2 separate regions of the Homo sapiens genome follow, and region 1 is linked to region 2. A link means that fine-mapping ties the variant in region 2 to the expression of a gene that starts in the linked region. Tissue or cell type: esophagus mucosa. Region 2 holds a variant in brackets; the other region holds the start of a gene. All regions are shown on one strand. Distances are from middle to middle.

Region 1 (8,104 bases), 79 kb after region 2:
CAGGAGGCTGAGGCAAGAGGATTGCTTGAGCCCAGGAACTTGAGGCCGCAGTAAGCTATGATCGCACCACTGCACTCAGCCTACACAACAGAGTGAGAACCTTTCTCTATAAAAAATAAAAAGCCAGTCTGGCACCAGAGCCCATGCTTCTAAACACTTCCCAACAAACCAAATCATTAAAAAACATCTGTAAAGCCAGGAGCGAATCCACCTTGTATTCTCATTACATGCACACAATACATACTATTGTAAAATAACAAATAGTGTTACTGTACCGAAAGCGTTGAATATCGGCATCAGGTACAAGATTTTTGATTACTAGAAACCCATTTTCTTCATAAAATTTTCTCTGTTCCAGGGTTAGAACGTTATTATCCAGAGTATACCTAAAGGAGAAAAAGAATCCCAAAATAAGTTACATTTTTAAATTACAGGCTAGGCACAATGGCTCACACCTCTAATACTAGCACTTTAGCGGGCCGAGGCAAGTGGATCACTTGAGGTCAGGAGTTTGAGACTAGCCCAGGCAACATGATGAAACCCTGTCTCTACAAAAAATACTGGTTGTGCCACTCCACTCCAGCATGGGCGACAGAGTGAGACCCTGTCTCAAAAAAAAAAAAAAAATTTAAATTACATCCTAAAAATATGTATCAAGAACCTGAGGCTAGGCGTGGGGGCTCATGCCTATAATCCCAGCACTTTGGGAGGCCGAGGCAGGTGGATCGCCTGAGGTCAGGAGTCTGAGACGAACCTGACCAACATGGTGAAACCCCATGTTTACTGAAAACACAAAGTTTAGCCAGGCATGGTAGTGGGCACCTGTAATCCCAGCTACCCGGGAGGTTGAGGCAGGAAAATCGCTTGAACTTGGGAGGCGGAGGTTGCAGTGAGCTCTGATCATGGCACTGCACTCCAGCCTGGGCGACAGAGCCAGACTCCGTCTCAAAAAACAAAAACAAAGACAAAAACAAGAACCTAGGAAACGTTCATGCTCTTCAATTCAGCATTTCTAAGACCAAGGAAATAATCTGAAAACTTACGCTTTATGTCACCAAAACAAGTGCATTAGTGGGCCGGGCACAGTGGCTCATGCCTGTAATCCCAGCTTTTTGGGAGGCTGAGGCAGGTGGATCACCTGAGGTCGGGAGTTCGAGACCAGCCTGACTCACATGATGAAACCCCATCTCTACTAAAAATACAAAAATTAGCGTGCCTGTAATCCCAGCTACTCAAGAGGATGAGGCAGGAGAATCGCTAGAACCTGTGGGGGTGGAGATTGCAGTGAGCCAGGATTGCACCAGTGCACTCCAGCCTGGGTGACAGAGCAAGGCTCCATCTCAGAAAAAAAAAAAAAAAAAAAAGTGCATTAGTGGAAGAAAAATTAACTAGTGACACTATGTTCACTCAGTGGAATATGACTCAGACATTAAAAATTAAGGCCATATAATAGTATGGATGGCGGGCACAGTGGCTCATGCCTGTAATCCTAGCTTTGGGAGGCTGAGGTGGGCGGATCACGAGGTCAGATCGGGACCATCCTGGCTAACACGGTGAAACCCGCCTCTACTAAAAATGCAAAAAATTAGCCCGGCATGGTGTCTGGCGCCTGTAGTCCAGCTACTGGAGAGGCTGAGGCAGGAGAATGGCGTGAACCCGGGAGGCGGAGCTTGCAGTGAAGCAAGATGGCACCACTGCACTCCAGCCTGGGCGACAGAGCCAGACTCGGTCTCAAAATAAAATAAAATATAATAAAATATAATAAAATAAAAAATAGTATGGACAATGCTTATTATAATAAAATATTATTACAATTATGTAAAACCAAGACACTATATGAAAAAAAGAAAAGCCTGCAAAGAAATACACCAAAGCAATTTTTAACAGTGATTGCCTTTAGAAATGGAATTAGGGATGATTTTTTAAAATTCCTTCTATTTCTCTGATGTTTCTGTAATGAATACATATGATTTTTCAGATGGGAAACAAATTCAATAAATTGTATATTTTTAACTGTCCAGTTGATGCATTCCAAGAAGGTAAAGTAACAAAATCCAAATAAATGTACAGCATACCCATAAACTCAAATCACCCAACCTATTCCTTAAGATCGGAATTGTGGTTGTATGAGAATATTTAGGAAGGTCAAGATCTTCCCCTTTAAAGGTGATTTAAGATAAACCAAAGATGCTAGCTAATATGTCCATATAACCAAATACAAGCTAATTTGTTTTGTTTTGTTTTGTTTTTTGAGATGGAGTCTGGCTCTATCACCCAGGCTGGAGTTCAGTGGCGTGATCTCAGCTCACTGCAACCTTGACTTCCAAGGTTCAAGCGATTCTCCCACTTCAGCCTCCTGAGTAGCTGGGATTATAGGTGCACACCACCATGCCCAGCTAATTTTTGTATTTTTTCATTTTGTAGAGGTGGGGTTTGTAGAGATGTTGGCCAGGCTGGTCTCGAACTCCTGACCTCAAGTGATCCACCTGCCTTGGCCTCCCAAAGTGCTGGGATTACAGGCATGAGCCACGGTGCCCGGCCACAAGTTAATTTAAATGAGATGTTTAACTGAATTTTTAAAAGTCAGATTATAAGGCTGGTGTGATGGCTCAGGCTGCAATCCCAGCACTTTGGGAGGCCAAGGCAGGAGGATTGCTTTAGCCCAGGAGTTCAACACCAGCCTGGGCAACATAGGAAGGGCCCGTCTCTATTAAAAATAAATAAATAAATGTCGGATTATGTATTTTCTGGTATTTTTCCTTCTTTCTGAATCTTAAAATACATACAGAAAATTAGTCGGTCTCCAAAATTTTCCACAAGTGCACTAATTAGAATAAGTCCTGGAAACAGAGGATTTGTATAATAAAATTCTAATCAGGTAACATATTATGTGGTATATCTTCATTACCACTCAAGAAACTTTTATATACATAATATATTTCAAAATCAAAACTCAAACTACTTACTGGAATTGTTGAGGATGGAAACTGGCAGAGGAAATAGTCCCTGAAGTGGGATGAGCTACCTAGGATGTGAATTAAGGCAAATAAAGTAAAATATAGAAGGCCAGGCACGGTGGCTCATGCCTGTAATTCCAGCACTTTGGGAGGCTGAGGCAGGAGGATTACTTGAGCTCAGGAGTTCGAGACCAGCCTGGCCAACATGGTGAAACCCCATCTCTACTAAAAATACAAATTAGGCCGGGGGCGGTGGCTCACGTTTGTAATCCTAGCACTTTGGGAGGCCGAGGCGGATGGATCACCTGAGGTCGGGATTTCGAGACCAGCCTGACCAATATGGTGAAACCCCATCTCTACTAAAAATACAAAAATTAGCCAGGCGTGGTGGCGTTCATTTGTAATCCCAGCTACTGGAGAGGCTAAGACAGGAGAATTGCTTGAACCTGGGAGGTGGAGATTGCAGTGAGCTGAGATCAGGCCACTGCATTCCAGCCTGGGCAACAGAGAGAGACTCCATCTCAGAAAAAAAACTACCACCACTACTACTACTACTACTACTACTACTACTACTACTACTACTACTGCTACTACTACTACTACTAATAATAATAATACAAATTACACTTGGGAGGCTGAGGCAGGGGAATGGCTTGAACCTGGGAGGCGGAGGTTGCAGTGGGCCGACATTGCAGAGTGCGGCACTGCACTCCAGCCTGACCACAGAGCAAGACTCCGTCTCAAAAATAATAATAATAATAATAATAATAATAATAATAATAATAATAACAACAATAACAACAACAACATAAATTCGCCTGGCATCGTGGCGCAACCCTGTAGTCCCAACTACTTAGGAGGCTGAGGTGGAAGGATCTCTTGAGCCCAGGAGTGAGCCGAGATCGTACCACTACTGCACTCCAGCCTGGGTGACAGAGTGAGGCCCTGTTTCAAAAAAAAAAAAAAACCAAAAAAGCAAAACCCTAGAAATTCCTTTTAAAGATCTCCTTTCTATCCGGTAACTGCAGAGAGTTGACATAGAATTGCATTGTTTCTTTAGCTTAATCGGTTACTTTCGGAATGTCACTCTCATCAATTAACATGTTATCCTTTCTTTCTCTCTGTTTCTCTCTTTTGGAACGCACTGGCCATCACGGCTCACTGTAACCCTGGACTCCTGGCCTTGGCCCCCAGAAGAGCCGAGACAACAGGCAAGGCGTGTGCCGCCGCGCCAGTCCTCACCCGCTGTCCTTCCCCAAATAGTGTCTTTATATAACTCAGTGGCAATGCCGTAGTCCAGCAGGGAGGCCGCCCTGGGCAGCGCCTGCCTGGCCAGCTCCTGCCCGGGAGGGCACCGTCCTCTCCCCTCCGGAGAGGTCCCGGTCACTGCCTGCCTGGGCCGGTTCCAGGCAGCCCTGCGCGCCTGTGCACCGTGCGCCTGTGATTGGACATCTCTGGGTCTCTGGACAGCTGCCGGGGTCACGCGCCGCCGGTGAAACGACGTCTCCACAAAGAGAGGAGCAGAGGCCCCCAGGGATCCCGGAGGGCAGGGCAACGCGGCAATTGCCCCGACCCCAGGGCGGCCGCGCGTGTCCTCGGGGGACGCAGCCTCTTCCCCGCTCCCCGGCTCCTGGAAGAGACGCGACCCAGGCGGGGACGCGGCGCTGAGCGAGGAGGCGCTGGGGCTGCGAAGCGTGCGACCCCGAGGCCTCCACCCGGACCAGGGCCACCACTCAGGCGGCGGCGCCGGCGCCGGATCCAGCCCGAGCCCCGCGCAGCCCAAAGGATACGACAGCCCCGGCCGAGGGGCGGCCGAGGTGGCCCAGAACAATCTGCAGACGGGCGGCGGCGCGAAGCTGCTCCATGGCTGCGGCGCGGGGAACCCCCACCCCTCCCGGCCTCTGCCCCATTTAGCCCAGCGGGCGGCTCCGCCTCCAGGCGCCGCCCCGGACTGGACGTAAGCGGGATTCCGGGCGGTGCCAGCTCGCGGGCCGGGCTGCTGGGGAGCCCTAGTCCGCTAGAGTCCGCGCGCCGGGCAACCGCCCGGGGCTGAAGTCCTCCCCACACCATGATCCTTCCGTCCTTTATTTTCTTTCTTTTTAAAAAGAAACAAGATCTTGCTCTGTCGCCCAGGCTGGAGTGCAGTGCGCGATCATAGCTCACTGCAGCCTTGAACTCTTGGGCTAATTTTTATTTTTTGTAGAGATGGGGTCTCGCTACGTTGCCCAGGTGGGTCTCAAACTCCCCCCGCCTCCCGTCTCGACCTCCCAAAGTGCTGGGACTACAGGCGTGAGTCATTACCCCTGCCCCGCACCCTGTTTCTGTTCCATCACCAGGACCCTCCCTGCCGCACCGAAGCTCGGGGGCCCAGTGACCAGGCCGAGGTCACACAGTGACAAGTGGCTGGGCTGGGACCTCACTCACTCTCCTAACGTCATGGCTTCCATCTGTTTAACCCTACGTGACTGCTCCTTCCACTGACAGCTGAAAGAATAAAATCTCCGATTTAAACAAAAAGTTTGCCGGGCGCGGTGGCTCACGCCTGTAATCCCAGCACTTTGGGAGGCCAAGGCAGGCGGATCACGGGGTCAGGAGTTCGAGACCAGCCTGGCCAACTTGGTGAAAACCCGTCTCTACTAAAGATACAAAAATTAGCTGAGTGTTGTGGCGCACGCCTGTAATCCCAGCTACTGGGGAGGCTGAGGCAAGAGAATCACTTGCAACCGGGAGGCGGAGGATGCAGTCAGCGAGATGGCGCCACTGCATTCCAGCCTGGGTGACAGGGCAAGACTCCGTCTCTAAACAAACAAACAAACAAACAAACAGGTTTTTAGCCGGGTGCGGTGGCTCACGCCCGTAACTCCAACACTTTGGGAGGCCGAGGCAGGAGGATCGCTTGAGCTCAGGATCGCTATAGATCGAAAGCAGCCTGGGTAACATAGTGAGAACACCTGATCTACAAAAAAATTAGCCGGGCGTCGTGGCGGGCGCCTGTAGTCCCAGCTACTCAGGAGGCTGAGGCAGGAGAACGGTGTAAACCCAGGAGGCGGACCTTGCAGTGAGCGAGATGGCGCCACCGCACTCCAGCCTGGGCGACAGAGCAAGACTCCGTCTCAAAAAAAATAAAAAATAAATCAATAAATTAAATAAATAAAAATTCCAGACATTGTATGAGGAAGCATTGCAAAACTTTCTGTTCTGTTAGCTGTTGCCTGTAGCCCCCAGTCATGTTCCCCACGCTTGCTCGATCTCTCACTAAACTTTCACGTAGACCCTTAGAGTTACAAGCCCTTAAAAGGGCCAAGAATTTCTTTTTCAGGGACCTCGGTTGCAAGTCTGCCGAAGTTCCCGGCCTAATACAGCCCTTCTTTAATCCGGTGTCTGAGTTTTGTCTGCGGCTCGTCCTGCTGCAGGAGGATCACCTGAGCCCGGGAGTTTGAAGTTGCAGTGAGCCCAGATCGTGCCTCTGCACTCCAGCCTGGGCGACAGAGTGAGGCCATGTCCAAAAAACACAAAAACAAAAAACAAACAAAACTCCAAAACATCAATGAAGTTTTGAAAATAAAAATAAAAAAATAAAAATGCTAAGATGCATCCCTAAAAGTCATATGTGCCATTCAAAAGGGGTATTTCATTTAGTGGGACTCCAGCCCAAAATATTAGAAAGTTCGGTTGGTCATAAAAAAAAAAAAAGTGAATAAAATAAATGACCTCCAGAAAAGTCTGATGCACACAGGCCAGTATGGTGTAAATTTCTTAGATAACTCCAGCATCTCTTTGTAAGATTTATTTTCCATTCCATAACTACGGATATTGACATAGCATCTCATTGTTTCTTTAGTTTCATTTTTTCATTGATTTTTTGTTCTTTTTTAGCTTCGAGTTACTTCCAGAACGTCGCAGCACACGTTATCACTTCCTGCATGACGTCTTTATAGAATTTGGTGACAATGTCGCAGTCCAGGAGGGAGGCCCGCAGCCAGCATCACCAGCCCCTTCCTGTTTGCACAGGCAGGGAGGAGAACGGCAGCTCCCAGGCTTCCACTGGGGAGTCCCTCCGGCTTTCTCCGGGATTCCGCCCGCCCCAGGGTCTCAGACCAACAGAAGGACCCGGGATCCCTCAGCAGCTCCGGACCTCATCTGCCCCACTTCGGCATCCCGCGCGGGAATATGACCATGTAGGAGTAACCCGGGGCTCTCAAGGACTCTACGGTTTGTCACGGTTTGAACGCAAGCGCAGGGCCTGGGGCGGGTGCAGGTGGAGGGTCGGCCTCTTTCTGCCCTTGGGAACGCCCCTTTCTGGATGTGGACCGGCGAGGCGGTCTCTCCTTTCTGCCCTCGCCTGGTGAAATGTGGGCACTGCTGCCAGGAGAAAAAAAACTGAAGCTGTGAATTCAGTTCATCACCCTTCCCTTGTTTATTAAAAAATCGGACCTTGGCCGGGCGCGGTGGCTCACGCCTGTAATCCCAGCACTTTGGGAGGCCGAGGCAGGCAGATTAGGAGGTCAGGAGATCGAGACCATCTTGGTTAACACGGTGAAGCCCGGTCTCTACTAAAAATACAAAAAAGTTAGCAGGGTGGTGGCGGTCGCCTGTTGTCCCAGCTGCTCGGGAGGCTGAGGCAGGAGAATGGCGTGAACCCGGGAGGCGGAGCTTGCAGTGAGCCGAGGTCGTGCCACTGCACTCCAGCCTGGGTGAAAAAATAAAAAAAAAAAAAGATCAGGACCTTTACCCGCGCTGACGGTGATTGGTTTTCATGACCAATAAAGAAATTCGAATGAGATGAAGCTACTTACACCTGTGTTTTTACTGTTCCTTTAAAATGCCCTAATTTCACAACCATGTGAAAATTCCTGCCATCTCTCCCCCAAGGCATTTATACAAGGATGTACTTAGATATTTAGATGTATTTAAATTTATGCTTTTCTTTTCTTTTTTTTTTTTTTTTGAGACGGAGTCTGACTCTGTTTCCCAGGCTGGAGTGCAGGGCGTGATCTCGGCTCACTGCGACCTCTGCCTTCCGGGTTCAAGAGATTCTCCTGACTCAGCCTCCTGAGTAGCTGGGATTACAGGCGCGCCATCAAGCTCAGCTAATTTTTTGTATTTTTAGTAGAGCCAGTTTCACCATTTTGGCCAGGCTGGTCTCG
Region 2 (8,104 bases):
TTCTGCAAGTCTTTAACTTGGGGGTTTACACACTAAATGATCCAGACTCACTAGTGTGTTATTTGAGACTCAAAAGTATTATTAGAGTGTCTAAACTAATGAGACATTATCTAGAAAAATGTTCACCTTTGTTTGCATGTGAAATCAGGGTTCTTTTCAAACACATCTTCAAACACTGCCATTCCTGTAGGAAGTTTTTTTTTTTTTTTTGGAAAGTTTTACAAAAACTGCTTAACTGTAAATTAACTATACAGATTTTTATTCGTGGTAGAAAGTTGGTTTAATAGGTAAACCAACTGGTATTAAACAAAGCATGGCATCCAACCAGGAGGACAGTTTTGTGTGAATACAGCGCAACCTTCCTGGTGTCGCTGGCTGAACAGCCTTCAGGGCTGACGCAGGATCTGAGCTAGCAGCAGGCTGAGCTTGCACTCCTGCCCAAAAACATATCACTGGTCAAAAATAAATTCTAAAGTTTTTTAAAAAAAATAAAAATGGTCAGCACAGTGTTCCTGGCGGAAAAATAAATAAATAATAAATAGAAAAAAGTTTATATACTTAGATGTATACAGATCACTCAAAGGAAACTCAAGACAATGGTGATAATGGTTTCTTTCAGGAGACCCAGGAGGGACTACCTTTCTGCGTATTCCTTTCTGTTCTTTAAAAATGTTAAACCATGGGGTGCTCGCTTCGGCAGCACATATACTAAAATTGGAACGATACAGAGAAGATTAGCATGGCCCCTGCGCAAGGATGACACGCAAATTCGTGAAGCGTTCCATATTTTTATGCCGCATATCTACAACTATCTGATCTTTGACAAACCTGAGAAAAACAAGCAATGGGGAAAGGATTCCCTATTTAATAAATGGTGCTGGGAAAACTGGCTAGCCATATGTAGAAAGCTGAAACTGGATCCCTTCCTTACACCTTATACAAAAATCAATTCAAGATGGATTAAAGATTTAAACGTTAGACCTAAAACCATAAAAACCCTAGAAGAAAACCTAGGCATTACCATTCAGGACATAGGCGTGGGCAAGGACTTCATGTCCAAAACACCAAAAGCAATGGCAACAAAAGCCAAAATTGACAAATGGGATCTAATTAAACTAAAGAGCTTCTGCACAGCAAAAGAAACTACCATCAGAGTGAACAGGCAACCTACAACATGGGAGAAAATTTTCACAACCTACTCATCTGACAAAGGGCTAATATCCAGAATCTACAATGAACTCAAACAAATTTACAAGAAAAAAACAAACAACCCCATCAAAAAGTGGGCGAAGGACATGAACAGACACTTCTCAAAAGAAGACATTTATGCAGCCAAAAAACACATGAAAAAATGCTCATCATCACTGGCCATCAGAGAAATGCAAATCAAAACCACTATGAGATATCATCTCACACCAGTTAGAATGGCAATCATTAAAAAGTCAGGAAACAACAGGTGCTGGAGAGGATGTGGAGAAATAGGAACACTTTTACACTGTTGGTGGGACTGTAAACTAGTTCAACCATTGTGGAAGTCAGTGTGGCGATTCCTCAGGGATCTAGAACTAGAAATACCATTTGACCCAGCCATCCCATTACTGGGTATATACCCAAATGACTATAAATCATGCTGCTATAAAGACACATGCACACGTATGTTTATTGCGGCATTATTCACAATAGCAAAGACTTGGAACCAACCCAAATGTCCAACAATGATAGACTGGATTAAGAAAATGTGGCACATATACACCATGGAATACTATGCAGCCATAAAAAATGATGAGTTCATGTCCTTTGTAGGGACATGGATGAAATTGGAAACCATCATTCTCAGTAAACTATCGCAAGAACAAAAAACCAAACACCGCATATTCTCACTCATAGGTGGGAATTGAACAATGAGATCACATGGACACAGGAAGGGGAATATCACACTCTGGGGACTGTGGTGGGGTCGGGGGAGGGGGGAGGGATAGCATTGGGAGATATACCTAATGCTAGATGACACATTAGTGGGTGCAGCGCACCAGCATGGCACATGTATACATATGTAACTAACCTGCACAATGTGCACATGTACCCTAAAACTTAAAGTATAATAATAATAATAAAAAAAGAAAAAAAAAAAAAAAAGAAAAGATAAAAAAAAAAAAAAAAATGTTAAACCATGGGTGTGTATTACCTGTTAGACTATTTTTTTTTTGAGATGGAGTCTCGTGTACCTGTTAGACTATTTTTAATTTTAAAAAGCCAAGATAATGTGGAAAGTGAATAAAACATTTTTAAACATTTATAATTTTAAACATTATAAGATCACAGAGTATATCAGAGTTCTCAATTGTAGACTAGAACATTTATATTTAACCAATTTGTTTTCAGAGAAATCCCTTCAAGGCTAGAGACAACTTTTTTTTAGAGACAGGGTCTTACTCTCTTGCCCAGTCTGGAGTGCAGTGGTGTCACATAGTTCACTATACCCTCAACCTCCTGGGCTCAAGCAATCCTCCCACCTCAGTCTCCCGAGTAGCTGGAACTACAGGCATGTGTCACCATGCCCAACTAATTTTTAATTTTTTTTGTAGAGATGGAATCTCACTATGTTGCCCAGGTCAGTCTCAAACTCCTGGGCTCAAGCGATGCTCCCACCTCGGCCTCTGAAAGTGCTGGGATTACAGGTGTGGCTCACCACGCCCAGCCTTTTAAATTATGAAAAACTTTTAAATTATGAAAAACTTCCCAAAGAATTAGAACATAATTGGCAGCAAATGAATTAGAAATAAAATAACCCAACTCAATGTAACTGATAAAAACCACATAAGTTAAAAAAATTTTTTTAATCATTCTGTGGCTCACAAAACTTACCACCTCCTTCTAAAAAATCTAAATAAACAAAGGCACACGATAATAAATTGTAAAATCTCTCCTGGAACACACAAAAACATTGTTTTTTCCTTGTACCTTTAACCTGCACTGGGAAAATGAAATTCCAACATATGCAAAATTGGTGAATAAAAATGAATGACAGATATATCCTTTGACAAATTTGTTTTCAACCACTTAGCTAGAACCCACTAAGAACTACGGGAAAGTAATGAAAGAACAGAAAAACCCAAGCAAAAGAAGCCCCAAAGGCCACACTTTTGACAAGGCCAGTCTCCAAAATACAAACCGCCCTGTTCTAATTTCATGTGAACTGTGGCTGTCCAGATCCCAGATCGCGTTACCTCTGTTATGCTTCTCCCGCCCAAGGAAATGACCGCAGCTGGCATTTGGTGAAGGAATTCTGGACCGAATTTGAAAACCCTGAAGTATAATGGAGCCCTTGTTAAGGATGGGGGTAGAACAAGGTAATGGAATTCTTATTTGGCTCCTTTCTGCCAGAGTTCTGTATCTAGAGCCACCGTGCTAAGCATGAGCAGGGAAGAGGCAAGAACAGGCTGTTTTGCTTTTTTAAAGCAAGCCATTCTTGGTTTTTGACATCTGAAAAGCCCTGCATTCCTTCCTGTGGACACACGACCGGCAGGTGGTGCATGGTGTGGCTGTGAGTCAAGTTATTGGTTGACATCCTCCTGATCACCACCATGCAGCAAAGGGGAACTGCCCTCTTGCCAGAAAGCACTGGGGTGTGTTATCCTGACCAATATGAACCAGATTGGGGCTTCTCTTGTTTCCCCATGGAAGTGACAGAGCAACACTTTGCCTTTTTTTCTGTTGCACACTGAGTATTTTTTTTAGTCATTAATTAAAAAAACAAAAACAAAAACCTTGTAAACAGAGGCTACCTACCTCAGGGCCTGTCTTGGCATCCAACCAGAAGGTCAGTTATGTGCAAATACAGTGCAACCTCCCTGGTATCGCTGGCTGAACAGCCTGCACCCCTGACTCAGGATCTGAGCTAGCAGTGGTTAAGCTTTCACTGCTGCCCAACTACCAACCCCAGTTGGCAGGCTCACCATCCACTCGGTAACTGATCTAGATAGACACATGTTGTTCTCAAATTTCATTTTTTCTTTTTCTTTTTTTTTTTTTTTTTTTAGATAGGGTCTCACTCTGTCTGACAGACGGGAATGTAGTGGCCTGATCATAGCTCACTGCACCCTCAAACTCCTGGCCTCAAACAATCCTCCTGCCTCAGCTTCCCAAAGCACTGGGATTACAGGTATGAGCCACCACACCTGGCCTTAAAGTTTT[T/C]CTGTTATACCAGTCTCTTCCACTGCTAGAACATTGCTTACTAAAAGCTGTGTGTCACTTTCAAGGAGGTTTGTGGAGAGCTGCGGGTTCCTAAACAGCCTTTCTGTTTAGCCAGGCCCGAAGGCATTGGGGTAGGTGGTAGAAGTACATGGATCACATAGCTAGGGTATGCACTAGGAACCTGGTTAAGTCTGACTTGGTTAAATTTAATGGAGCTAGAAGTGAGATTTGCCGTCTGAAAAGACACCATGAATAGTGTATATTTCAAGCACCCCTGTCCCCTGCCCAGGACTTTTCTGGTCTTAAGTTTACTTGCTTTCAGAAAGGATCAGCAAAGATGCCCAGCGATAGGAAGCACGCGACCTCTTCAAAGAGAAATTCGATTTAGCCAGTTTAAAATATGTAGAAGTCGGCTGGGTGCAGTGGCTCACCTGTAATCCAGCACTTTGGAAGGCCAAGGTGAGTGGATTGCTTGAGCTCAGGTGTTCAAGATCGGCCTGGACAACATGGCAAGACCCCGTCTCTCCTGAAAATACAAAAACTAGCTGTGCATGGTGGTACATGCCTGTAGTCCCAGATACTTGGGAGAATGAAGTGGGAGGATCACCTAAGCCTGGAAGGTCGGGGCTGCAGTGAGCCATGATCTTGCCACTGCACTGCAACCTGGGTGACAAAGTGAGACCCTGTCTCAAAAAAAAAAAAAAAAAAAAAAGTGTGTATATATATACATATATATATACACACACACGCACATATATATATATATGTTATGACCCAGCGTTTCATGTCCAGAAATCGATCACACTGATAGACGACTGGGTGAGTCAACTCTAGCATATTCGGTGGCATATGGGACATATTGAGAAGAGTGAGCAATGCTCCTCAAGTTCAAGCTTTCAAACACCCAAGTCAGCAAGAATCACATCATCGCTCAGGGAAGACAGCATGACACCCCTCGGTTGGAGATTTGAGAAGATAATACACATGGTTGATTCAGCGTTTTTATTTGTAAGCCATAAGCAAACATGTGATTCTTGACTGATTCTTTTGCTTGGGAACGAAGCCAGGGGAAGCCACTGTAGGTTTGGTACTAGGAGGCCCTGCAGGCAGTTGCTCACCTCAGAAGATGGTCTGCAAAGAGGTGAAAGTCAGGACACTTTCACACACTGGAAGGAAAGGCATGCGTCTTTTCAAGAGCTGCTGGCCACTGCAGACCCCAAGCTGAGACCCTCTGAAGGGCCGGTTTGCATGGGAAAGATTGCTGGAACACGGGGATGCCAATGGTGCTACAAGCTTTGTCTTCTTGGCCGGCTTCAGGATGGGATCAGGTGTGGTGGCGGTTGTAGAGATAGGATGGGTGCAGGCCGTCATAGTGCCACTGGCGCCACTGCTCCACAGCCTCCCGGCTCCTCTCTTCCTGCTCTGGGGAGGAAAGACAAAGCCACCTGTTAGGACAGGGGGACTCTGACCTGCCACTGAGCCCAGCAGCCATCAGCCGAACCCCTGCCCTGTGGTGACCTGCACTGAGAGTGTTTGTGAGCCCTGGTGAGAGAAGGCCAGGACTGGTGAGGATCCAGAGTATGTGAGCTGACAAGCCTTGTGTATAAGTCAGGCCCAGATGGGCGAAGGTCACAGGCAGGTGTAGACCAGGGCCGGGCATCTCAGGCTCTTCTGCCTGCCCAGCCAGTGTAGGAGGGCAGAGGCTTATGCAGCCCTGTTTCAAAGACTTAACAACCAAGACACAAGACGAAAAAGTAACAACACAGTAGCAGGAATGGACTACTGGAAGGACATGCAAGAAAAATAAGGGACTACAAACCATGCCTTGAAAACATGAAGGAAATCATTGTCGACTTGGAGTTTTTTTTCCTCCATACTGTTCTGAATTAATTTTCTTTTTTTTTCTTTCTTTCTTGTTTTGTTTTGTTTTGAGACGGGGTCTCAGTCTGTCACCCAGGCTGGAGTGCAGTGGCGTGATCATGACTCACCGCGGCTTCAACCTCCCAGGGCTCAGGCGATCCTCCCACTTCAGCCTCCTTTCACCATGCCTGGCTAATTTTTTAATTTTTTTATGGAGGTGGAATTTCAGTGTGTTGTCCAGGCTGGTCTCCAACTCCCAGTCTCAAGCAATCCTCCTGTCTCAGCCTCCCAAAGTGCTGTGATTGGCCAGGCGGGATGGCTCATGCCTATAATCCCAGCACTTTGGGAGGCTGAGGCTGGCAGATCACCCAAAGTCAGGAATTCTAGACTAACTTGGCCAACATGGTGAAACCCTGTCTCTACTAAAAAATACAAAAATTAGCCAGGCATGGTGACACACACCTGTAATCCCAGCTACTCAGGAGGCTGAAGTATGAGAATCACTTGAACCTGGGAGGTGGAGGATGCAGTGAGCTGAGATCACGCCACTGCACTCCAGCCTGGGCGACAGAGTGAGATCCTATCTCAAAAAAAAAAAAAACACAAAAGAAAGAAAAAAAGAAAATGCCCAAAAGAATTGAAAACAGGGACACACAAATGGATACTTCTACGTGAATGTTCGTAGCGCAACAGTTACAGCAGCCAAGAGGTGGAAACAACCCCAGTGTCCCTCAACAAAGAAATGGATAAACAAAATGTGGTGTGTATGTGTAAAATTTCGCCACAAAAAGGAATGAAGTTCTGGCACATTCTACAACATGGACAAACCTTAAAAATATTCTGCTGAGTGAAATAAGCCCAGACGCAAAAAGATGAATAATGTATGATTCCACTTAGATGACATGTCTAGAATGGGCAAGTTTTTGTTTTTGTTGTTTTGACTCTCGCTCTGTCACCCAGGCTGGGGTGCAGTGGCGTGATCTCGGCTCACTGTAACCTCCGCCTCCCAGGTTCAAGCGATTCTCCTGCCTCCACCTGGAGTAGCTGGGATTACAGGTGCATGCCACCACGCCCGCCTAATTTTTATATTTTTAGTAGAGATGGGGTTTCATCCTGATGGCCAGACTGGTCTTGAACTCCTGACCTCAAGTGATCGAACTGCCTCGGCCTTCCAAAGCACTAGTATTACAGGCGTGAGCCACTGCACCTAGCCTAGAATGGGCAAATTTACAGAGACAAAAAAAAAAAGAGGTTGCCAGAGGCTTCCAGGAGGGAGGAATGGCGAGTTACTGCTTTATGAATGCAGTTTCTGTATGAGGCTATGCAAGGGTTTGGAAATAGCAGTGACTGTTGCACAGTGAATGTAGTAAATGCTGCTGAATCGTATGCTTAAAAATAGTTTATGCTGGGCATGGTGGCTCACACCTGTAATCCCAGCACTTTGGGGGGCCAAGCTGGTAGGATCGCTTGAAGCCAGGAGTTTGAGACCAGCCTGAGCAGCGTTAGCAAGACATCGTCTCTACAAAAAATAAAAAAATATTAGCCAGGTGTGATAGCACTTGCCTATAGTCCCAACTACTTGGGAGGCTGAGTTGGGAGGATTGCTCGAGCCCAGGAGGTTGAGGCTGCAGTGAGCTATGATCATACCACTGCACTCCAACCTGGGTAACAGAGCAAAACCCATCTAAAAAAGAAAGAAAGGAAGCGGTGGGGAGGGAGGGAGGGAAAGAGAAAGTAAAGAAAGAGAAGAAAGAAAGAGAAAAAAAGAGAAAGAAAAAGAAAGGAAAAGGAAGAAAGAAAGAAGAGTTTAAATGGCAAGTTTTATGTTGTGTGTGTTTTATCACATTTTTAAGATGCATTTGTCAAAGATGTTGGAAGGATGGGAAATCCTAACAGAAGATGATGTCAAGAATTAAAGAACCAAGATGTCTTTCTTACCTCTGTTTTCTCAAATGTGGACCTCACCAAGAAGCCCATGAACCTGATTTTGGTACTAGCGAAAGTGAAACTGGCATCCTCTGTGGCGATGGCCAACAGGACCGCCTGGTGG

What was found. PIP is the estimated chance that this variant, and not a neighbour inherited with it, causes the effect.
Region 1: it holds the start of PHYH, and the variant in region 2 is fine-mapped to the expression of PHYH in esophagus mucosa (GTEx, PIP above 0.99).

What each region holds. Positions count from the first base shown.
Region 1 is chr10:13,295,221-13,303,324 of GRCh38, forward strand. It overlaps PHYH (phytanoyl-CoA 2-hydroxylase), which reads right to left and starts at 4,844. Exons shown (of 9, transcript NM_006214.4): 1 at 4,748-4,844; 2 at 2,967-3,025; 3 at 276-386. The coding sequence starts at 4,822. LOC124902377 (a long non-coding RNA gene) reads left to right here and starts at 4,969. Exons shown (of 2, transcript XR_007062056.1): 1 at 4,969-5,186; 2 at 6,834-7,748. RefSeq lists enhancers at 3,834-4,454, 5,031-5,170, 6,546-7,046, 6,903-7,192, 7,383-7,532 and a silencer at 4,431-4,850.
Region 2 is chr10:13,216,585-13,224,688 of GRCh38, forward strand. UCMA (upper zone of growth plate and cartilage matrix associated) reads right to left here. Exons shown (of 5, transcript NM_145314.3): 5 at 5,182-5,616. The coding sequence ends at 5,519. It also overlaps the pseudogene RNU6-6P. Among named protein-coding and RNA genes, the nearest start is that of UCMA, 14 kb to the right of the region's middle. The variant T/C (reference allele first, on the strand shown) is at 4,195.